Linked DNA regions of Homo sapiens. The protein of the gene in region 2 purifies or fractionates together with the protein of the main gene of each other region. This does not show direct contact. Each region holds a gene or a part of one and is shown on either strand. Other genes may lie near its edges. The genes, in order: DOC2A, GPR137B, NCAPD2 and NCAPG.

Region 1 (3,051 bases), on a different chromosome or scaffold from region 2:
TCACCTCTATCACCACCCCCAGGCACTTGCTGGTTTGAGGCTCTCGAGGGGCTGAGGGGGGCAGGCCCTGAGTGCAGCATGGGTTGGCCCAGCTGTGCCCAGGGCCTCTTCCCCCTCCCCAGAGCTGCCCTGGGGGGCAAAGCCTAGTCTCCTGAGGCCCCAGTGCCTCCCTGACTAGTCCCCCTGTGTTTCTTCCCCCTGCTGCAGATGGCGGTGGGACCCCCCGACTGCCCTGTGGGAGGGCCGCTGACCTTCCCTGGCCGGGGTTCTGGGGCTGGGGTCGGGACAACCCTGACCCCCCTCCCACCCCCTAAGATGCCCCCCCCCACGATCCTGAGCACGGTCCCTCGGCAGATGTTCAGCGATGCAGGTAGCGGGGACGATGCCTTGGATGGAGACGATGACCTGGTGATCGACATCCCGGAGTGACCGTGACATCACGCCATGCCCACCACGGCCCCGCCCGGCGCCCTCCCCGTGCCAGCACACACGAGTCCAGCTTCCTCGGAGGTGTTTATTGATGCCCAGCTGCCATGCTCCGGCCACTGACACAACCAGAAAAGGCGTAAACATGCACGGGTGTCCCCCAGGAGGGTGGCAGGGGCCCTGCCTTCAAACCCCGGCCCCCTCCAGGGGACAGTTATTTAAACGAGTGGCCGGGAGCATCTGCCACCTGCTGGGGAGGCAGAGACCCTGCAATGGCCACCTCTTTAAAAGGGCAGCTGTACAGGGCTAGGTTTTTTCAATGAAGTTTCTGTATTAAAGGAGTGGCTCTGGGTTTGTTTTTTGTCCTTTTTTTTTGAGACATTCTCCTCCTCTGAACCTCCCCTAATCCGACCTCCTCCCTGTTGGGGGAGAGGGACGGGGCAGCGTGGAGAGGCAGGAGTGAGGAGCGCGGGGGCCTGGGGCCGGGCTCTGAGCACTGCCCGGGTGTGCAGATGATGGGGGGTTTGCATATTTGCAGGGACTAGCGAGTCAGGCAGGAGGTTTGCATATGTGAATATAGAACTCCGCAGCCCCTCATGAGCAGACAGACCCGGGTCACGGAGACTCACAAAAATAGGTAGTGCAGGGTGGGGGCAGCCCACCCTGTGTAAACGTGCAACACACTCGTGCGAAGGTTGGGTACTGGACCCGGCTCGATGGGCCTGTGCCGGGACACTGCTGTCCACTCAGGCTGAGGACAGAGCCCCGGCCGCAGGGGGCAGCTCACTGGTCAGGGTGTGCCAGCGCTCCAGGGCTGCGTCCGGCTGCTGCAGGCAGTCACTCCAGTGCTTCCGAGCCTCGCCTCGGGCACCTGGCCCCAGGGACACGCCACCTGGGGAGCAGGTGGGCAGGGTCAGGGCCACCTCCCTGCCACTTGCCCGCCCTCAACACCCGCAGCCAGCTCCTCCCTCACCAATGAAGTCATTGGATTTGCCAATGTCATAGTCCCAGACGGTGACTTCCAGGGTCTTGGTGGCCAGAGTGGAGAGCTCTATCTCGTAGAAAAACTCCTAGGGACAAGGCCGGCCACCCGTTCGTGAGCCAGCTCCCCAGCCCCTCCCTGGCCTCCCTCCATGTCCCGTCCCCTCCTGGGTACCTCGTTAAATTCTGGGTTGAGAGTCTTCTTCTTCACACACGTCTTATGCTTGGATTTCTTGTCCACATCGGGCCTCAGGTACCTGGGGGTGGGGTGGAGGGAGACGAACTGAGGGGTGAGGGACAGGCCAGGCCCAACTCAGGCCAGGGCAGGCTCCCTGGGGAGGAGAGGGTCAGAGCAAGGGCTCACGTCTTGACGTAGGGGTCCGAGTAACCGTTGACGTCCATGGCAGCCAGATGGGCGCAGCGCAAGATGCCTACCAGCAGTCCCCGGCGCCGCGAGCTGTAGCTGAGACTCAGCAGGATGCGGCCACGCTCCTCCAGCAGCCCCTGCCCCTGCTCCGCCTGCTCCAACTGCGGGGCACAGACTCAGGGTCAGCCTGGGCCCCTGCAGCCTCCCACCCACATGCATCCCCATCCCCATGAGGTGCCTCACCTCCTTCAGATAACAGGAGATGCCCCTCAGCGCCGCTGACATGGAAGAGGGGGACGCCAGCTGAGGGGGCAAAGAGAAGGTTCTGGAAGCCTGGCCTCCCCAGGGCCCCCTCCCCTGGCGCCCCTGCAGCCCCCACACAGACCGGGACCTGGCGCTCGAGGCAGATGTTAAAATGCTTCTTCTGCGAAGGCTTGAGGCGGCGGAGGGGCACGCGGATCTCCCCAATAAACTCATTGTGACTCAGCTTGTCCTCATCACAGACGGCGATCCTGGTCGGGAACTGCAGTGTCAGGGCCCCTGGGGTACCTGAGCCCCGTTCCGGGGTGTAGGAAGGGCCTTGGACCAGCCCAGCTCTGCCCTAAACACTACGTCTCATCTGGAAGACAGGCTGGCACTTGAGAAGGACAAGCAGATTTGCCCATTCCTCTGTCCCTCCCTCTGCAGCCACCCGGCTGTCCCTGGTCCATCAGGACATGCTCAGCCATTGTGGGAAGCCCTCAGAAATCTTGGAGCACGCTGCTCACTGCCTCCATTCAGGGCCTGGGGGCAGGAGCCGAACACCACGGTGGATGTGGCCATAGACACAGGCCGTGAGAGCTAGAAGGGCCTTGGAGCCTTGGGCAGCCAGACCAGTACCCCACGCCTCCTCGGGAACCCCCGTCCTTTTCCTGCATGCAGCAGAGAGCCAGCCCCGCAGGGACTCACTAAGAAATGATTGCTTTCCAGCCACCTGTCCTCCTGCAGTCCCTGCCCTGCCTCCGCAGTGACCCACTACCAGGCTGGGCATCTGTGGCATGGAGGATGGGCAGATCCCAGCCCTGCCACTTCTGAGCCACCTGTGTGACCTTGGGCAAGTCACTTGATCACCCTATGCCTCAATTCCCATCTGTAAATGGAGATAGTCAAGGGAAAGAAAGAAATGTGAAAATGCTAAGCCTGGGCTGGGCCCTGGTGAGCGCTCATTTTTTGGTCTCATTCTGGTTTTGGCCTCTGGCCTCCCCTCCATTCCACCCGAATAGCTGAAACCAAGGTGG
Region 2 (7,037 bases):
ACTGACCTCAGATGATCCACCCGCCTCGGCCTCCCAAAGTGCTGGGATTACAGGCATAAGCCACTGTGTCCAGCCCCAATACATTTTTTTGAGACAGGTCTCGCTCTATCACCCAGGCTAGAATGCAGTGGTGCGATCTCAGCTCACTGCAGCCTTGACCTCCCAAGTTCAAGCAATCCTCCCACCTCAGCCTCTTGAGTAGCTGGGATTACAGGTGCATGCCACTATGCTTGGCTAATTTTTTAATTTTTTGTACAGATGAGATCTCACTATATTGCCCAGGATAGTCTTGAACTCCTGGGCTCAAGCGAACCTCCTGCCTCGTCCTCCCAAAGTGTTGGGATTACAGGTGTAATTCACCACACCCAGACAATACAATTTTTTTAATTTAAAAAAAAACACCTGTTGAATAAATGAAATGAATCGCCATGTTCCAGTTGAACTTTATGTTGCTTTGTGAAAGCTGGGAGGACGAGGCCCTCTCGCATGGATAGATGTGTGCTGTCTTCCCAGAAAATGAGTGTGGGCCTGATGGGGCCAGGCTCACGGCACGCCAAGGTTGCTCACACCCTGCCCACTTCCCTCCTTATCTGCCACCACTCATGCACTAAAAATGGACCGTCACACAGCCTGATGGGACAACATGACCTCTGACAGCTACAAAGAAGCTGTGGCAGCAGAGTCCAAGGTGACAGGGAGAGTAGCCTATGGGGTGGGAGCAGCCCACAGAGCCAACCCCACCGTGTATGGGGGTTTTTTCACCCTGTGTTTTGCAGACTGCGTAGCTCAGCCTCGCAAGTGTGTATGCCATTTAAAAATCGAGGAGGGAGGCCGGGCGCAGTGGCTCACGCCTGTAATCCCAGCACTTTGGAAGGCCGAGGCAGGCGGATCATGAGGTCAAGAGATCGAGATCATCCTGGCCAACATTGTGAAACCCCGTCTCTACTAAAAATACAAAAATTAGCTGGGCATGGTGGCGGGCACCTGTAGTCCCAGCTACTCGGGAGGCTGTGGCAGGAGAATCACTTGAACCTGGGAGGCAGATGTTGCAGTGAGCCGAGATTGCGCCACTGCACTCCAGCTTGGCGACAGAGCAAGACTCTGTCTCAAAAAAAAAAAAAAAAAAAAAAAATGAATATGCAACAGAGACCATATGTGGCTCACAGGCCTAAAATCCTGACCCACATAAGCTTGAGGTAATCAACCCACTTGCAGAGTAAAACCATTTGGGCTTCATCTGTCCTTATAGGTTAATGGACTCTAAGCTTCAGCTGCAGGAAACATAAAAAGTGAAATATTTATGAGCCTCTGCAGCCCTCGGGGAATGCCTGTTGTCCCAGGTACTGTCTAAACAGTCTGCTGGGGCTATTTCTGTACTGAGAGAACTGGCCGGCCAAAATGTCAGGACCCAGACAGACCTTCCAACCAGGAACCAGCTTTCTTCTTCTCACTGGAAACGCAAGGCCAACAGGAACAGCCTGACAAAAGCGGCTCTTGGGATCACATGACTTTGTTGTTTGCAAAACCCTAAGACGCTTGCAGTGAGATTTTGTAGAGGGTCTTGGATCTTGCAAATGTTCCTCTCTGGGCAGCCCACCCCTCACTGTCATGACCCCTGCCCTCCACTCCCCGCCACTCAACGCTGAGCAGCTAGCCTGGGGCTCAGAGGGTGGGCACAGCAGCAGCGGGACAGCCATGGCTGGGCCCTGGAACTCCACTGAGAACCTGCACTAGCCTCAGGACAGTGCTCCGGCCCTGCCTCCCTGCTGGTCACTACCAGTTCTGCCTGTCTGACTACGGAAAGGCAGGTGAGCAAGAAGCCGTAGCAAAGCCTGCAGGTGCCACAGTGTTCGGAGCCGACAGTAGGGCGCTCCTGATGGTGACCCGGCAGCAGCCTCAGCCCAGCCTCTGCTGTGGGGAAGTCCAGGCTTCCTGCATGGTCACTGGGGTTGGATGCTGAATGTGCTGTGAGGGGCCTAATTGTTCCCCGAGTGCTGAGGGCATTAACAGGATTTAGTTCCCCCTCGGTTGGCAGGGCATCACCGAGGCACTGATGCGGTCACAGCCTCAGCTGCAGAGAGAAGAGCACGCTGCCATGGCTCGAGGAGAGGGCTCGGGAAACTGGGCTGTATGTTTAGAAAGTGGCCTGCGGGAGGTGCTGGGGGTGAACGGCAGACCAAGAAAATAAGGAAACCTTTCCACACACACAGGCACACACATGCACAGACACACACACAGGCACATACACACAAACACAGGCAAAGACACACACAGGCACAGACACACACAAACACAGGCACACACACGGGCACAGACATACACAGGCACACACAGGCACAGACACACACACAGGCACACAGACACACACAAACACAAACGGGCACACACATGCACAGACACAAACAGAGGCACACACACAGGCACACGCAGGCACAGACATACACAGGCACAGACACACACATGCACAGACACTCAGAGACCCACACAGACACAGGCACACAGAGGCAGGCACACACACACACAGGTACACACACAGGCACACACACAGGCACACATACACAAACCCCACACACACACAGGTGCACACAGGCACACACGCATATGCACATACACACACAGGTGCACGCAGCCACACGTGCACAGGCACACATGTACATACACACAGGTGCACACAGGCACACATGCACATACACATACAAAGGCGCACACCTAGGTGCACACACAACTCTGGCTGGCCATGAGCCCACTGAGCTAGCTCCGCAGGGAGCCGGTGCCAGGGGCTGAGGCCATGGGCGCAGGGCCCAGAGGCCAGGCTGAGCACAGTCCTTGCCCTTGGCCCGCCTTGTCTGTTTCCTAAGCCTCTTACTTCTTTACAATCACCAAAAGGCCTAGAAGCTTCCCTCTTCACAACTCCTAGACTAGGGCCTGCCACACGACAGGTATTTGATAAACACGTCTTGACTAAACTGACCGCCAAGAGCCACAGCCGAAGCCCCTTACTCCTACAATCACCCACGTCCCTTTCCTGGTGAGCACGGAGGACTAGTTCCTGGATTCGACTTTTAGGGGCCTCTTAGTTCCCTACCAGCAAGAATGAGGACTATGACCCACTTCAAGTCAGAGTGTGGCGTCTGTAGCAAGCACGGATCGGTCAGCCTGAAACACGGGACTTGTCCTGCCTCTGCACGCCTGGCTGGGCTGCCTGGGAGAATTTCCTCCTCTGGTCGGCTCATCTGCAAAGGAGGGGCTGGGCTGCTGGACCCCCAGTGCCTTCTGCTCTCATGTCAGGCACTGCGATTAGGCTTGCCACATGCTCCCTACGGGTGCGCCAAGAGTCACCACCGTTTTACAAACAGAAAAGCTGCTGTTTGGTGGAAAAGTAATTTTGATGGCACAGTAGGCTGGAAAAGGGCAGGGTCAGCCCGGGGACCTGACCTTCAGGACAGTGGCTGGGTGTCGAAGCAAGAGCCTAGGTTCAGAGCTGTAGGCAACACACAGTGAGAATCTCAACTAAGGGAGGAGAGGAGCAAAGGGATTCAGGACACACGGCATCTCCTTTAACCCACTCCGACCCATGGGATGAGTATTACAGTTTCTGTCTCCCTGGTGAAGCAGCAGCCTTAGAGAGGTGGTAACCAGCCATGGGACCCACACTGGAGGCAAAGCCCGGATTGGAACCCAGATCTGCACCCAGGGACCCTGCTCCTTCACTCCCAGGGCTGCCTCCTCATTCATAAGGCTTTGCTGGCCTAGTGCCCATGATGAGCTCCCAACACCGACTATGAGCCCCTACCATGAGCCGCAGGCCCTCACCACGAGCCCCTGGCACCATCCCACAGGACCACATGACTCACGAACCATCCCTGCTGCAGCTGAGTGGAGGGTGTGGAAGTCCCTAGCTGAGTTTCAGAACAGAACAGACCAGACCCCGATAAATGTCAGCTTCCCATCTGCCCTCCAAGGCATGGTGACGTCTCAGGTCTCAGTTCCCACATCAGTGTCCATTCATCACAGCACCTCTCCCCATGGAGAGAACTCGCTTCTCCATTTCCTTCCGCAAACCATGTGACTGCAATGGCAGGAGTTTGTCATAGGGCCCAAGACAAAGCTGAACCAGCCTGTTCCATCCTGCCAAACTCGGGAATCTGGAGAGTCTGAGTTCCAGGCTGGGAATTCCGAGGAAGAAGGGCTGGGATACGTGGCTGCCGAGGTGTCACCGAGCCCACCGCCACATCAACTTCTGCCCCTGCAGGGCACAGACCTGTCTGCCCAGGAGCTGCCTGGGCACAGAAGCTACCGCCTTTGCTTCTGAGCCTCTATCCTGAAACCTGGAGGTAGAAGGCACCATAATTCCTCATGAGCAGAGACCCCTGCCTGCCTTAGGTTTCAGAGTCCTGCCCCTCTCCTAAGTCCCCACTAAAATGGTGATTTGACACAGCGCTTAGAACAGGCTCTGAGTCAAAGGCCTTGGTGCAAAGCCTTGGTCCCGCCACTTCCTCATGCAGCCGGGAGCAGAAGCTCAGCTGTTCCCCAAAGCTGGCACAAGGAGCCACAGCTGGAAACAACAGGTAGTCAGCACTCCATGTTCCAAACATTTGGGGCCAGACAGACACTGCATACAGACGGCCCGGAGAGAGTTAGCAGAACCAGTCCTACCACAGCCGCCTCCCCATGTTCCCAGGCTGAACTGGAAGGTGGAGAGTGGAGATGGAGAAAAAGAGTTAACAGCCTGCTACCAGCAGGGCACCTCACCCCAGGTCAGAAAGGAGAAAGACACATGGACACTGCTCACAGGGATTGGGCAGGAAGGGGGCCCGGGCAGATGCTTGCTGAGCTGGGACTGTTTGCAGGTGGAGTCCCGGTGGAGCCTGACCTGTGCCCTGGTGATCTGGAGGCACCAGGCACTTGGAGGGTGATGCTTGCTTCCACCTGGGATTTTTACAGGTGGGAGGGCCCCTAGGCACGCAAGGAGTGAAAAGCAGCCAGGTGCAGGGTCCTGAAGACGCTAGTTAGGCATCCAGCCTGTCACCCATGTGGCCAAGTGGGAGTGGAGGGGCCTCAGTGATCCCATGGCTTTCTAAGAAAAAGCCCTAAAAGGGCTTTTCGAAAAGGGGCCTAAAGCCATGTGGCTGCCCCCTGAAGAAGGAATTGGGATGGAAGGGAGACCAAAGATGGGGCTAGGAAGAAGCTGAAGTCCATCATGTCAACATGGCCACGTGGCAGTTACCCACAGAGGCGGCGCCAGAGCAAGACCAGAGGCCGACACGCTGGCAGTCACGAGAGAGTGTGCCCCTCCCCTGGGCTGCCTGGGAAGATGGAAGGGGAGAGGCTGAGAGCATGGGCACACCCTCTGCACCAAGCCCTGCAGCTCGAAGCCTGGCTGGCCTTGGACAGTGTGGGAGAAGCTTTAAATCAGACGTAAAGATTTAATAAAGGAGTATGGGCCAGGCACAGTGGCTCACGCCTGCAATCCCAGCACTTTGGGAAGCCGAGGTAGGCAGATCACCTGAGGTCAGGAGTTCAAAACCAGCCTGGCCAAGATGGTGAAACCCTGTCTCTACTGAAAATACAGAAATTAGCCAGGCGTGGTGGCGCACACCTGTAATCTCAGCTACTAAGGAGGCCGAGGCAGGAGAACTGCTTGAATCTGGGAGGCGGAGGTTGCAGTGAGCCAAGATCACACTACTGCGGCCTGGGTGACAGAGCCAGACTCCAAAATAATAATAATTACCGAGTATGACTAGAAAGCCATAGGATCTGCCTGAGAGGTCATTAGGGGTGGAAAGAGACTTAACATGGCAGAATTTAAAAGCAGTGATTTAGGGGTAAGTTAATCAAATTGAGCTTGCTCATGATCGCATTACCCTCAGATGTGTACCCAAGGGCAGCCGGGGCTGCGTACTGCAGCATCGTGTGCATTGCACGGAGGCTCGGACGGGGCAGTGTGGGCAAGTGTTCTCACCCCTCCGAGCCTCAGTTGGGGGGTAACAGTACCCTCTGGGTCACCAGGGAGGGTGAGATGAGTAAGGCCCAGGTACAGGGACCCTGCAAAAGCACAAAGGACTGACAACAACAGAAAAAAGCTTCCTCCCCATCTCGGACCTCTCCTTCCAGTTCATTCCCAATTCCCAAACTGCCCCCACGACTTCCTTCCCACCATCCTCTCTTCCTCCCCACCCAGCTTCAGCCTCCAGACACCTGCTTCTTCTCAGAGGACTCATGTCTCATTCAAGTCTCCTGACGCTTCAATAACCATTCCCTTCAGTGCCGCAAATCGTGCCTTAACTGTGCTGTATGTATACTTTGATTCTCTGCAACCTGATTTTGCGCTCCAGGAGAACACGAGGTTAGATTTAGAGTTGGGTATGTTTTCCCATTGTTAAGAGGTTTCATGGCCAGGCGCGGTGGCTCACACCTGTAATCACGGCACTTTGGGAGGCCGAGGTGGGCAGATTACTTGAGGTCAGGAGTTTGAGACCAACCTGGCCAACATGGCAAAACTCCATCTCTACTAAAAATACAAAAATTAGCCAGGTGCAGTGGCAGGTGCCTGTAATCCCAGATACTCGGGAGGCTGAGGCAGGAGAATCGCTTGAATCCAGGAGGCAGAGGTTGCAGTGAACCCAGATCACCACAAAGCAAGGCTCTATCTCAAAAAATAAAATAAAAAGAGGTTTCACATACTGTACATAAAAGACAAACCTCACACTCAGACAGCACAGATGTGTGTTGAATCCCAGCTCCACCATGCACTGACAGTGTGACCTTGAGCAAGTCATCTACGACCTCTCAGCCTCAGTTTCCTCCTCTGGAAAATGGGGACAATACCGGTACTTTCTTCAGAGAGTTCTGGTAAAAATAAATATAACCAATTGCTTAGAAGTGTGCTTTCTTGGCCGGGTGCGGTGGCTCACACCTGTAATCCCAGCACTTTGGGAGGCCGAGGTGGACAGATCACAAGGTCAAGAGATCAAGACCATCCTGGTCAACATGGTGAAACACTGTCTCTACTAAAAATACAAAACTTAGCTGGGCAT
Region 3 (7,037 bases), on a different chromosome or scaffold from region 2:
TCCATTAAGCCCATTCTGCAGTGATTTCTCCAATCCTCAAGTCCAGCCCCTCGTTACTGCCCACTGCAGCAGCCTCCACGGGCCTTCCTTCCCATGGGTTGGTCTCCTCAGCCTCTGCTTCCCCACGTCCCTTCTGTTGCACCCCAGTTTGCAGGTGCTCTCCCCTGCCTCTTGTAGGGCTTTTGCCGGTAACTGACCTATGACATCATGGCCAATCACCACCACCAGGCTCTTTTCTTTTCCCCAGTGAGGAGAAAAATGTGGCTGGCAGGAGCACGCTTCCCAGCGCCACCTCCACTCTCTGTGCCCGCAATGCAAATGCTACAAAGCAGAATGTCTCACTAAAATGCTGGGTGCCTGGCTAACACAGTTAAAGTCCTAGACTCCTGAAGTCATTCAGGGACTTCCACAGTTTAGTTCCAACCTACATTCACAACTTTATTATCTTTTCCAGATTTTTTTTTTTTTTTTTTTTTTTGAGACAGAGTCTCCCTCTGTCGCCCAGGCTGGAGTGCAGTGGCGCAATCTCGGCTCACTGCTACCTCCACCTCCTGGGTTCAAGCAACTGTCCTGCCTCAGCCTCCCAAGTAGCTGGGACTACAGGTGCCCACCACCACACCTGGCTAATTTTTTTGTATTTTTAGTAAAGGTGGGGTTTCGCCATGTTGACCAGGCTGGTCTCGAACTCCTGACCTCAGACCTCAGGTAATCTGCTGCCTTGGCCTCCCAAAGTGCTGGGATTACAGACGTGAGCCATCGCGCCTGGTCTTTTCCAGATAATTTGAACCAGAACACAGTCTTCTTTGTTCTACAATGTGAACTGTGCTCTTTCTTGGGTTCTGTTTGAAATGCCCTCCCTCCTTGCTCTGATTCTCTAAATCCTACTCATCTTTCAAGACCCAGCTTAAGTCCTACCACCTTCAGGAAGCTTCCTTGACCATTCTACCCCAAACCGCTCTCTTTCCTACTCTGTATCCCTCAGTAGAACACAGAAGTTAAGAGTATGTTTTCTAGAGCTCTTATTGCCTGAGTTTGAATCTCAAACTTTGCCACTAACTAGCTGTAACCAGCCAAGTTCAGTAACTTCTCTGTGCCTCAGATTTCTCATTGTAAAATGCAGATAATGCTACCTCACAGGGCTGTCGTGAGGATTAAACAAGTTACTGTGAGTAACGTGTGAGTGCCTGTCATATATTCAATACCATATAAGTGAGGTTGTTATTATTGCTATGACAACCATTACCCGTACAACTCATTCTGGCACTTTATTATCTACCTGCTGCATTGTTCTAAAAATGTTCTGTGGTTTTTCACTACCAACTAGACTGTTGGTTCCTTTAAAGTTGGGAACATGAAAGCAAATAGTCTTATACTTCTTTCTGGAGCTAAGTAAATTGCTAAATACATAGTAATAACTCAATAATACTTGTTGCCGGGCGCTTTGGCTCACGCCTGTAATCCCAGCACTCTGGGAGGTTGAGGCGGGTGGATCACGAGGTCAAGGGTTCGAGACCAGCTCGGCCAACATGGTGAAACCCCGTCTCTACTAAAGATACAAAAAACTAGTCGGGCATGGTGGCACATGCATGTAATTCCAGTTACTCGGGAGGCTGAGGCAGGAGAATTGCTTGAACCTGGGAGGCGGAGGTTGCAGTGAGCCAAGATTGTGCCATTGCACTCCAGCCTGGGCAATGGGGCATGACTCCGTCTCAAAAAAAAAAAAAAAAACAACCAAAATACTTGTTGAATGAATAAAGAAAGAGAAAGCAGGAAGCCTTACAATTTCCTCAAGACACTGAATGGTCCCAACCGAGGCATCCACTAGCAGCAGAGAGAGATTCTGAATCAAAGCCTGGGCCTTGGCTCTGTGGGAACAGCAGAGATCAGCGGTCACTATAAGATTGGGAAGCTGAACTTGGCAAACAGTGATTAGGGCTATCCCACCACAGTGCTACAAAACTGCTCTCCCTGGAAACCGAGCCCCACCCTAAGCCCCACTATGATGGACTGCCTATGGATCTGGAACTCCCCTGGAGAAATGCACCTCTTCCTTTAGGAGACAAGGGAAGTCCTGTGAGAAGCTGACCTTGGAAAAGTCAGCAAAGGCAAAAGCACCCCATATACCTGGCAGAGTCCCCTTTGGGGTTGAGGTAGAGTTGGCGGTAGGCATTAAGCACGGCTTCCCGGACACCAGGCTCCTTAGACCAGATGAGAGGCAGCATACGGCGCACCCCAAACAGGGCCTGGGGTACCCCAAATTGGAAGACCATCACAAAGAATTCAATCACCTCCTGCACCACTGAGAGAACATGTACAAATGTCACCTATCTACTTCACAAAACTCCCCCAATACCTAACGACAGAACCTTTCTGAATGTAGCAAGATGCAAATGGAGGCCTTCCGCATTTTCCCTGAGAATGTCGACTCCTCCTATGATGCCTTATCATGAAATACTATATGCATTAAAATGTATAAGCTGTAAGTGGCTAGAGGAAGCAAACAGAAAAAAAGAACCCCTGCCTTTTTTTTTTCTTTTCTTAAGACACAGGTTCTTATTCTGTTGCTCCGGCTAGAGTGCAGTGGCATGACCACAGCTCACTGTAGCCTCAAACTCCCGGGCTCAAGCAATCCTCCTGCCCAGCCTTCCGAGTAGCTGGAACTACAGGTGCGTGCCATCACGCCCAGTTAGTTTTTGTTTCTTTGTAGAGATGGGGTCTTGCTATGTTGCCCAGGCTGCTCTCGAACTCCTGGCCTCAACCTGTCTTCCTGCTTTGGCCTCCCAGTTTTGTAGGGATTACAGGCATGAGCCATCGCGCCCAGCCGAGAACCCCTGCCTTTTAAAGGAGCAGATAGATATATCAATAAAATATGGAAAAGAACTCCAAGATCCATGGCCGGGTGCAGTGGCTCACACCTGTAATACCAGCACTTTGGGAGGCTGACGCAGAAGAATTGCCTGAGCCCAGGAGTTGGAGACCAGCCTGAGCAACAAAGGAAGGCCCCATCTCTATTGTTAATAAAAATTTAAAAAATTAAAAAATCCAAAAGAACCCCAAGGCTGTCCTTATAGAAAGGGACTCTGGCATACCTGTAGTTGTGTTTTCATACATCATCTTGCTGATGATGCCAATGGCCTCTGTAATCTTCCGGGAGAAGCTGTAGGCATCCTGCAGATACTGTACCAGCATCTCCTGCTTCACTAGTTCATCATTTCCCCTGGATTCCTCAGGATCCGACATATTGGGTTTATTTTTACAGACAGTCTGTCCTGTGACCATGTTTCCTGTAGACTCCCGGGGATTCTTTTCTTGTGTGGAAGCTGCTGGGCCTAAGGAGTTAGAGAAGTACAGGATGGTTTCGTTCAAGGGGATACAGGGGAATCCAACAGCTGTCAACATTCCTGGATATTTACTTATTTATTTTCCTTCTTCTTTTCTTTTGAGATGGGGTCTCACTCTGTTGCCTAGGCTGTGCAGTGGCAATGATCACCGCTCACTGCAGCCTCAACTTCCCCGGGCTAAGGTGATTCTCTCACTTCAGCTCCTGAGCAGTTGGGACTACAGGTGCGTGCCACCGCACCTGGCTAATTTTTTTTTGGTATCCCTTGTAGAGATGGGGGTTTCGTCATGTTGCTCAGGCTGATTTTCAACTCCTGGGCTCAAGCAATCCTCCTGCCTTGGCCTCCCAAAGTGTTAGGATTACAGGCATAAGCCACGACATCTGGCCCTGGATATCTCTTTTCACAATGTGAAGATATGAAATTAAAACTTACTCTAAAATATCTAAATTTCTCAAAAACCATACCTAAAGACCGCTATGGTCTGGACAGTCACCCTGTGACTATCAATCTTAGGCCCGTGGGCTGCTTCCATTCCAGAGCAAAAGTAATGCCAATTCATCTCTGGGCTCTTCAGCACCAGGTTCTGTTAACCAGGCCAATGATGGCATAAAGTTAATGCTCAGTAAATACCAGTTGACATGTGTTATTTATTGACTGAAGAAGGAAAATGATTACCTTTGAAGATAAGTCCTAAGATATTCAAGAGCCTGGTCTCCTCTGACTCCTCTGGGTCTATATGACTGAAGGGTTCGGACTCCTGGAAGTGGCCTGTGGCTTCTCGAGTGAGAATGATGGCCTTTCTGAAAGAACACCAGCCTGTCAGTACCCAGAAGAATGTCACTGCAGCCGTTTGTAAGGGAGCTTACCTCATGATTCTATCAAGTCCCTGGACCTACTGCCCAGAGAAAAGGAGCACTTAACATGCTTAAAAAGTTGTTACAGCACCTACTAAGGGGTAGGGCTCAAAACACTTTGCCTATTTTTTTCCCCTGACTGCTCATCTGCAAACACTTTTCCTATTTCTGAACCTACAAGGCATTACTACAGTCTTCAAAAAAACTCCAATAAGGCTTTTTAAAGTTTTAAAATCATAAACCTACTCCAAACACCTGTTTAAAAACTTTCCTAAGTTTAGAAACAATAAACTTTCAATAATTAGTTAATTCAGGCACATCCAGACAATAAGATTCTATGTAGTCATAAAAAATAATGGGGACACGTGAGCCCAGGAATTTGAGATCAGTCTGGGCAACACAGGGAGACCCAACTATACAAAAAGTAAAAAAAGTTAGCCGGGTGTGATGGTGTGTGCCTGTGGGTGTGATGGTGTATGCCTGTGGGTGTGATGGTGTGTGCCTGTGGGTGTGATGGTGTGTGCCTGTGGGTGTAATGGTGTGTGCCTGTGGTCTCAGCTACTCGAGGGAGCTGAGGTGGGAGGATCACTTGAGCCTGGGAGATCAAAGCTGCAGTGAGTTGTGATCATACCACTGTACTCCAGCATGGGCAAAAGAGTGAGACACTCTCTCTCTCAAAAAAAGAGGAGAGTGGGAAACTATTTATGTATAAATATATATGTGTATATATATATATATATTTTTTTTTTTAGAGACAGAGTCTTGTTCTGTCACCCAGGCTGAAGTGTAGTGGCATGATCTTGGCTCACTATAACCTCTGCTTCCTAGGTTTGAGTGATTCTCATGCCTCAGCTCCCCAAATAGCTAGGATTACAGGTACGTGCCACCATACCTGGCCAATTTTTGTAATTTTAGCAGAGATGGGTTTCGCCATTTCGCCACGTTGGCCAGGCTGGCCTCAAACTCCTGGCCTCAAGAGATCCACCAGCTTTGGGCTCCCAAGGTGCTGGGATTACAGGTGTGAGCCACTGCACCTGGCCATCTATAAATTTTTTTTTTTTTTTGAGATGGACTCTTCCTCTGTCACCCAGGGTAGAGTGTAGCGGAGCAATCTCAGCTCACTGCAACCTCTGCTTCCTGGGTTCAAGCAATTCTCCTGCCTCAGCCTCCCAAGTAGCTGGGATTACAGGCATGAGCCATTGCACCCAGCCATAAATATTTTTAAAAACCACTGAGACACATAGTTAAGTGAAAAAAACAAGATGGTAGATCAGTGGGCAGAGAATTCTATCAGTCATATAAAAGGGGGAAAAAAAGAATACATGTTTGACTGCTTGTCTACATGTTATCTTCTTGCCACGTTGCCCAGGCTGGCAAAGGCCAGGCCTGGTGGTGTGTACCTGTAATCCCAGCTACAAATTATAAATAAATTAACCAGGCTACTCAGGAGGCTAATGTGGGAGATCGCTTGAGCCCAGCAGGGTTGAGGCTACAGTGAGAGGCTGCAGTGAGCTGTGATTGCGCTACTGTACTCCAGCCTGGGCAACAGTGAGATTCTGTCTCAAAAACAAACAATCCTTTTCTAATTGACAGGAGAAAATACTAGAATGCTTGGTGGAACATGCACTTATAAAACTATAGTCTCTATTTTTGCTTTAGCAAAATAAAAAGAGAGACACTAAAGTAACATAAGGGAGTCATAGGGCAAACAAGCCACTCTCTAGCCTTCTAAAAACAGCCCAAGCCGGGCACGGTGGCTCAAGCCTGTAATCCCAGCACTTTGGGAGGCCGAGGCAGGCGGATCACGAGGTCAGGAGATTGAGACCATCCTGGCTAACACGGTGAAACCCCGTCTCTACTAAAAATATAAAAAAAAAAATTAGCCGGGCGTGGTGGCGGGCGCCTGTAGTCCCAGCTACTCGGGAGGCTGAGGCAGGAGAATGGCGTGAACCCAGGAGGTGGAGGTTGCAGTGAGCCAAGATCGCACCACTGCACTCCAGCCTGGGCAACAGAGCAAGACTCCGTCTCCAAAAAAAAAATTCAGCCCAATTAGGTAAGAAGTAAATAAATAACAAATAACTTGTGGCTGAGGTTTAAGAATACTTGTTGGCAGCCGAGTGCGGTGGCTCACGCCTGTAATCATGGCACTTTGGGAGGCTGAGATGGGTGGATCACCTGAGGTCAGGAGTTCAAGACCAGCCTGGCCAATATGGTGAAACCCTGTCTCTACTAAAAATAAAAAAATTAGTGCGGTGTGGTGGTGCGCGCCTGTGGTCCCAGCTACTTGGGAGGCTGAGGCACGAGAATTGCTTGAACCTGGGAGGCAGAGGTTGCAGTGAGCCAAGATCGTGTCACTGTACTGCAGCCTGGGCAACAGAGTGAGTGAGACTCCATCTCAAAAAAAAAAAAAAAAAAAAAAAAAAAAAACTTGTTGACGGCTGTAAGGGCTTTTGTTGTTAAGTTCTAGAGTCACAAAAACACTAGGAGAAATCTTTTCTCTAAGATCAGGATTCATACTAGGTTTGAAGATTAAGGTAGTATTAAGCATGTTTGATATTATTAGTTCATGAAATTTAGAATTAGAAAGTCCTTAGAGATCATAAGATCTAATCAATTTCTTATTTTATAGATAATGAAACCGAGGCACAGAAAGTTAAGCAACTTATTCAAGATCATACAACTAGAACTTATTTATAGGTGCTCTTCTTCAATTGAAGGAGGACTCATGTTTGATTATAATACTGTTAACATTTAATTGTTTCAGTAGTTTTTTTAAACATTTATAAAGTAGAAACACATGCTTAATTGTGGACTAGGCCTATGGTCAGACCATTACTACATG
Region 4 (7,037 bases), on a different chromosome or scaffold from region 2:
ATGAAGAGACCACTCAAGAAAGTATTTTAAAGTCTAAGAATTTATATTTAAGATGGCTTTCAACAAATTTTATTGTTGTCCCTTTTACTTACTCTAATTTGATAATCCTCATTTCCTCGTTTGCTCTTTAAGTGAGCACCTTGGTTAACCAAAATTGTTTCACATCAGAGTTCTTAGTCATTGAATCTACTGCCTAAAATATACAGTATGCCTGAAAACATATTCCTGAGATTATCAGGAAACAATTTTTCAATTTAATTTTGTTTCTGTACTCAAGTATACTAATCCCATCTAGTCATGTTCCTCCAAAAAGACACTCATTCTATTTTTTAGGTATTCTTTCAACAATCACTAAAATAAATTTCTGAAAGTTTTCTTTTTTTTGTTTTTTTTGAGACGGAGTCTTGCTCTGTTGCCCAGGCTGGAGTGCAGTGGCGCGATCTCGGCTCATTGCAAGCTCCACCTCCCAGGTTCACGCTATTCTCCTACCTCAGCCTCCCGAGTAGCTAGGACTACAGGCGCCTGCCACCACGCCCAGCTAATTTTTTTGTATTTTTAGTAGAGACGGGGTTTCACTATGTTGGCTAGGATGGTCTCGATCTCCTGACCTCGTGATCCACCGGCCTCAGCCTCCTAAAGTGCTGGGATTACAGGCATGAGCCACCGCACCCAGCCGAAAATTTTCCTCTTTAAAGGTGAAGAAAATAAGTCGAAGAGGTTAAAGTTACTTATTTCAAAACTAAGAGAGTGACAAAGGAAATGTTAATCCCTGACCTTTCAGAAGGGAGGAATCAAGCTTTTTACAAGTCACCTTCTGATGCTGTCCTTGAGGAAAACTCCTCCCCCTTTATGCCATTTAAATATTTAACATTTCCTCATATTTTCTTATATTTTCACTACCTTCTATAAACATCTTTTATATTTATATATATTATTAAACTTTGCCACAAACTCATTCCTTTTGGAAACATTTCAACATGGCCCAAACAGCATTATAATGAATTCCCTACTTAAATGTCAAAGTCTGAAATAATTAACATTAAAATGCTCATTAGATTCACACAGGTTCTTCATGATGTTAACATGGGCTTGAGCTATAGTTTCCCTACTGGCTCACATTTGAGATACTTATCCTAGATTTAGGATTTTTGAGGGGAAATTTAGAGGCATGCACAGCTTTGCTGCCTAACTTTTATGTGAGATCATTTTAAACAAAAGCAGAGAACTGTACTTCATACAGATAATTCAGGTCCATAATTCATATTATATGGAAGCTTTTTTAAAAAAATACATCAGGCTGGGCGCTGTGGCTCACGCCTGTAATCCCAGCACTTTGGGAGGCCAAGGCAGGCAGATCACGAGGTCAAGAGATTGAGACCATCCTGGCCAACATGGTGAAACCCCATCTCTACTAAAAATACAAAAATTAGCTGGGCATGGAGGCGCGTGCCTGTAGTCCCAGCTACTCAGGAGGCTGAGGCAAGAGAATCGCTTGAACCCGGGAGGCGGAGGATGCAGTGAGCCGAGATTGCACTATTGCACTCCAGCCTGGCGACAGAGCAAGACTCCGTCTCAAAAAAAAAAAAATAAACCATAAAGTTGAAGTTAAAAACCTACATACCAATATCTATCAAAATATACATATATTATCCTTTGGTGTAGCAACTTATTTCTTGGAATTAACCCCCAAAAATCCCAAAGGTACCCAAAAATGTAAAGGAAATTTAACATACTTTTGCTTTTATCAGTGAAAAATGGAAACATCCTAAATGTCCATCAACAGAGGAATAAATTAAATGTTACCACCATACTACGGAATGATATGCTGTTAAGACTGTAACAGTATCTATTACATTATATATGCACCAATATATAATGATCTCAGTTATCAGTTGAAAAAAAAAGTATATACACAGTGTTATATTTTTAAAGAAACCTGTACTCAAAAAATGTATATAAATGCAGAGAAAGAGGTTTGAATATACACCCTATATTGTTTAGTTGCTAATTCTAAGGGTTGCTAGAATATACACTTAGTTGCTAATCAATGGGATTGAGGAAGTAGGAAATAAAAGAGGGAATTCCACATTTTTATTCCTTATACCTCTGTATTTGAATTTTGACAAGAATGCATTCATGTTTTTCTTGTATAATTTTAAAGTGAAATAAAGTAATCCAAATAATTTCTTAAGAGGTATAATTATGGTAATCCAAATTGTTTTTTAAAAAGGCATATTTTGAAAAAACTTTAAAACATGAAGCTAGATAGTAAGTTTTTAATAAATAAAACTGGCCACAAAGATCCACGCTGTGAATTGGAAAACAATGTTCCGTGCATCAAATCCAGCCTATTACCTGTTATATAGCTTGCAAGCTAAGACTATTTTAAATTTTTAACTGATCATTTTTTAAAATTTCTTATTTTGTTAACACATGAATATTAAAGTTCAACTATTTAGTGGCCATAAAAGTCAATAAAAGTTTTATTGAAAAACAGTTACTTACATTGTCTTTGGCTGCTTTTACAATACCATGGCAGAGTTGAGTCATTGTGACAGACGGTATGGCCCACAGGACCCTAAGATATTTATTATCTGACACTTAACAGAAAATGTGCCAACCAATTTCAGAAATAATATATCATCATCATCAACTTTATGCAGAAATGGTCATAATCATATCTTAACAGTTTTGAAGAAATGATCCTAAACATAGTGACTTGCTCTTTCAGTATACAGACCAGCACAAGATATTCAAAAAGACTCGATGTATATAACTATCCCTACATGTACAAAAAAAGGATTTTTAACATATTCACAATCAAACATGACTTTGAGGAAGGGGACTGGGAGATTGACACATGCAGCAACACAATCACTCTCCAAACTAAAAGAAAAAAAATTTACCTCAATAAATAGTCTGCATATACTACAGGCTCTGGCAAAATCTGCTCTAAAAATTCTTCACCTTCATCTCCTTTTGATTTCAAATATTCACAAAGGGCACACCAATACAAAGCAATTTCAGGAGTTAATGTTTCCACTGGAATCAATTTCCTTCATTTAAAAGAAAGAGTGTGAGAGAAAGCATGATCTTTTTATCATTAAGAATTGAAGAGTACAAAAATGAGAATAATAAGATTTGCTTTAAAACCACTACACTATCCTTTTAATTAGAGTCATTAATGTATCCACACAAAAAGGAATGAAGAAACTTAGAACAAAAAAGAACCAAATAAGCAAACATATACTAGGGGTGCATGTTGCTGGATTTTCTCATGGTAGGCTAATTCAAAAATCAAAGTAAGAAACTGAAGGGGGGAAAAGCATAGCTAAAGTAGATAGTCTATGATAAAGTTATGAGTTCTTACACCAGGAGGGGAAAAAGGAAGGATAAAAGGATATTCATCAGACTAAAAGAAAACAAAAGAGAGTTAAGATTAAAGGTATTAATATAATCTTAAGCTATGGGGAGGAAAAAAAACAAATTAATTGCACAAGTTAATCAGTACTACATTTCAAAGAATGAATCCTTTATGTACCTGCCATCATTGTTTTTACAGAGTCCCACCAGTTCACTGAGAGGAGTTATTGAAAACAAGGCATTGAGAACAGAGACTGCCACTTCAGAAGAATTTTCTACATCCAACCGATGGAGCAACTCTAAGATATTTCCTTCAGAGAACCGTAACCAGCCTTGAAGAAGATGCTTCTGCATAGCTTGTTTCACAGCATCTATTGAGTCATTTGAAACATAGGTGAACAAAGGCTCCCTCTAGCTTCCATCTCTTGTATTTTGTCTGTTTTAATTAACAAAGTCAGTATTTACAATAGAAATAGTAGAGGTTAAGAGGCACAACTAAGCATGTATATATATATTTTTTGAGACAGAGTCTCGCTCTGTCACCAGGCTGGAGTGCAGTGGCACGATCTTGGTTCACTGCAACCTCCACCTACCAGATTCAAGCGATTCTCCTGCCTCAGCCTCCCGAGTAGCTGGGACTACAGGCATGCGCCACCACGCCCAGCTAATTTTTGTTTCACCATGTTGGCCAGGATGGTCTCAATCTCTTGACCTCGTGATCCGCCTGCCTCGGCCTCCAAAAGTGCTGAGATTACAGGTGTGAGCCATAGCGCCCAGCCAACTAAGCATATTAAAGGTAAAAAAAAAGAAGTACCATGATACTGCAAAAGTCACTGTAATGGTCACTTACAAATAAAAATGGAAAAGGTTCAGCACCAAATACCACAGCCTACAAAAATATCTTTACATTCCTTCTCCCCTGGGTTCAATGGGCTTCAGGTGTTAGCCCAGAATATGTAATAGCTATTATCTCACTTGTTATCTGATTTTATCTATTACACGATTGCTATTTGCAGTAGTGAACTATACAAGCACACGTCACTGAACAAACCTTAGTCTTAGCTTTTAAGGTCATCCTACTAATTAGTCCTCTGACAATGTTTTCAAACGCAAGTCGGTTTTCTCACTACAGCGCAATAGAGCCATCTTGGCCTTCTCATGAGAGTTAAAAACTTCAAAAAATATCATTCCTATAAGCAGATTCTCTCAGGCTCCCCAACCCCTGGGCCACGGACTAGTACCAGTCTGTGGCCTGTTAGGAACCGGGCCGCACAGGAGGAGGTAAGCCGTGGTCTAACGAGCATTACCACCTGAGCTCTTCCTACTGTCAGATCAGCAGATGCATTAGATTCTCTCAGGCGCAGGAACTCTATTGTGAACTGCGCACATGAGGTATCCAGGTTGCACGCTCCTTATGAGAATCTAAGTAATGCCTGATGATCTGAGGTGGAACAGTTTCATCTGGAAACCATCCAGCCCGCCCTCTGTGGAAAAACTGTCTTCCATGAAATCGATCCTTGGTGTCAAAAATGTTGGGGAACTCTACTCTAACAGAAAAAAAAAAAAATAAGAAAATTATACTGGTCTGACCATTCCTATTTGTTGTTTCTGATACACAGAACACATTCATACCAAAGTATACACATAAGGAACAGCATTTTTTTTTTAAGTCAGAGAGAGAGGGCAAATAGATCTTTTCCTACTTCTGACATGAATTAGCTCTACAGACTTAAGTATTGTTTCTCCATCTGTAAAATACAGAAAGGGTGAAAGAAATAAGCTCTGCTCCTTCAAAATACCAAGATCTTGGCCAGACGCGGTGGCTCACACCTGTAATCCCAACACTTTGGGAGGCTGAAGTAGGTGCATCACTTGAGGTCAGGAGTTCGAGACCAGTCTGGCCAACATGGTGAAACCCCGTCTCTATAAAAATATAAAAATTAACCAGACATGGTGATGTTCACCTGTAATCCCAGCTGCTCAGGAGGCTGAGGCAGGAGAATCGCTTGAAACTAGAAGGCAGAGGTTGCAGTGAGCCAAGATTGCACCACAGCACTCCAGTCTGGGTGATAGAGTGAGACTCTGTCTCAAAAATATATATATATCAAAATCTTTAGCCCTGTGTTTTCTATATAATACATCAAGATAAATTTCACCAGGTTCATGGGACTGGCAGGCTTACTTGACCTGATTTGACACTCGTTTCTTAAACCTTGTTAAGTCTGACCTCAAAATCTACTAAAGTTTTGTATATATAAAGTTGTTTATCTTACCTGATCTGTCATTAAGACCTTGTTGAAGGAGCATTACTCTCTGAGCAATGGACATAGCTCTCATATGAACCTTTTCAGCTAAAACCTTAAAAATAATTTATAAAGATGGTCATTAACCTCAACACAATTTATAGATTTCATAAGAATATCACCATCTTAGAAAATTACCCAGAATCTCCAAAAGAAATTAATACCTGGTAACATACTTAATACAGTAAGATTCTACCTAAATTACCTGTGTTCTCCATAAAACCTCAACTGAAGAAATTATTACATGCCAAGTATTTTTCAAAGGCACTTTAAGAAAATGGCTCCTTGTCCTTTAAGAATATGCCAACACAAGACATTGAACTTATTTACCTGATAAGCCAGCTTTCTGACAGCCTCTTTCACATCCTTGGTGCGCCCTACAATTTTTGGCAAAGTCTTTGCTGATGGTGCAATACATGATAACACTGCCCGTCTAACTTCTGGATTTGAATCATTTTCAATCAAAGTAGCATATGCTAAAAATAAAGCAATACATTTTAGTACTGATGAAATTATTTATTTAACTACAGTCATAAAATAACACACATTTTGATATTTTAAAATGCCTTTAATGTGATAAAGATAGGCTGGGCATGATGGCTACTGCCTATAACCAGCACTTTGGGAGGCCAAGGTAGGTGGAGAGCTTGAAGCCAAGAGTTCAAGACCAGCCTGAGCAATATAGAAAGACCCCTGTCTCTACAAAATAATTTTAAAATAAAAAATTAGCTAGGCATGGTAGTGGCGCTTCCAGTTACTTAGGAGGCTGAGGTGGAAGGATCACTTAAGCCCAGGAGTTTGAGGCCACACCTCTGCAATCCAGCCCGAGTGAGAACCCATCTGTAATAGAAAGTAATGTCATTTTTTTAGTCTCACATATTTTAGTTGAAGTTTTTTTCCCACCAACTTCCTTCTTTTTCTTTTTTTTGGAGACAAGGTCTCACTATGTTGCCCAGGTTGGAGCCAAAGTGCTGAGATTACAGGCCTGAGTCACTGCTGCGCAGGCCACCAACTTCCCTTCTAAAGACACAAGGGGGAATTAGTCAACGGACTGGCTCTTAGGCCAAAAGTGAAAACAAATAGCCCTAAAAGTCACAGAAAATTCATCATTAAGATTATGTCTGTGCTACTCCTCAATATTTAAGAGAAAGCTTACTATAGCAGACAGTTTATTTTAAACTGATATGGCTTTATAAGGGCCCATTATTTTGGTTTTTAATGAGACCTAAAAGGAAATATTTTTTGGTTTTATTCATTGAAACAAACCCATTTCTTATATTTAAATATATTTATCTGTACTTCTCACATCTTTCCTACCTCAATTATTAAGTACAGGTTGACTATCAAATACCTATGTTTTACACAATATTA

What was found.
Region 1: the proteins of GPR137B (region 2) and DOC2A purify together in Homo sapiens (affinity purification with mass spectrometry; 3 studies listed by BioGRID and IntAct, with this or other methods). This does not show direct contact.
Region 3: the proteins of GPR137B (region 2) and NCAPD2 purify together in Homo sapiens (affinity purification with mass spectrometry; 3 studies listed by BioGRID and IntAct, with this or other methods). This does not show direct contact.
Region 4: the proteins of GPR137B (region 2) and NCAPG purify together in Homo sapiens (affinity purification with mass spectrometry; 3 studies listed by BioGRID and IntAct, with this or other methods). This does not show direct contact.

Annotation. Positions count from the first base shown.
Region 1 is NC_000016.10:30,005,014-30,008,064, forward strand, and holds the end of DOC2A (double C2-like domain-containing protein alpha), read right to left. Parts: intron 2,287-3,051; coding exon 2,160-2,286; intron 2,078-2,159; coding exon 2,018-2,077; intron 1,936-2,017; coding exon 1,772-1,935; intron 1,665-1,771; coding exon 1,583-1,664; intron 1,497-1,582; coding exon 1,400-1,496; intron 1,319-1,399; coding exon 1,173-1,318; 3' UTR 501-1,172; downstream 1-500. Other genes in the region: INO80E (INO80 complex subunit E), read left to right, coding at 1-38. UniProt on the Homo sapiens protein: Calcium sensor which most probably regulates fusion of vesicles with membranes. Binds calcium and phospholipids. May be involved in calcium dependent neurotransmitter release through the interaction with UNC13A.
Region 2 is NC_000001.11:236,145,514-236,152,550, reverse strand, and holds part of GPR137B (integral membrane protein GPR137B), read right to left. Parts: intron 1-7,037. UniProt on the Homo sapiens protein: Lysosomal integral membrane protein that regulates the localization and activity of mTORC1, a signaling complex promoting cell growth in response to growth factors, energy levels, and amino acids.
Region 3 is NC_000012.12:6,518,090-6,525,126, reverse strand, and holds part of NCAPD2 (condensin complex subunit 1), read right to left. Parts: intron 4,142-7,037; coding exon 4,017-4,141; intron 3,330-4,016; coding exon 3,090-3,329; intron 2,300-3,089; coding exon 2,125-2,299; intron 1,866-2,124; coding exon 1,781-1,865; intron 1-1,780. UniProt on the Homo sapiens protein: Regulatory subunit of the condensin complex, a complex required for conversion of interphase chromatin into mitotic-like condense chromosomes.
Region 4 is NC_000004.12:17,813,958-17,820,994, reverse strand, and holds part of NCAPG (condensin complex subunit 3), read right to left. Parts: intron 6,143-7,037; coding exon 5,997-6,142; intron 5,722-5,996; coding exon 5,637-5,721; intron 3,735-5,636; coding exon 3,542-3,734; intron 3,057-3,541; coding exon 2,907-3,056; intron 1-2,906. UniProt on the Homo sapiens protein: Regulatory subunit of the condensin complex, a complex required for conversion of interphase chromatin into mitotic-like condense chromosomes.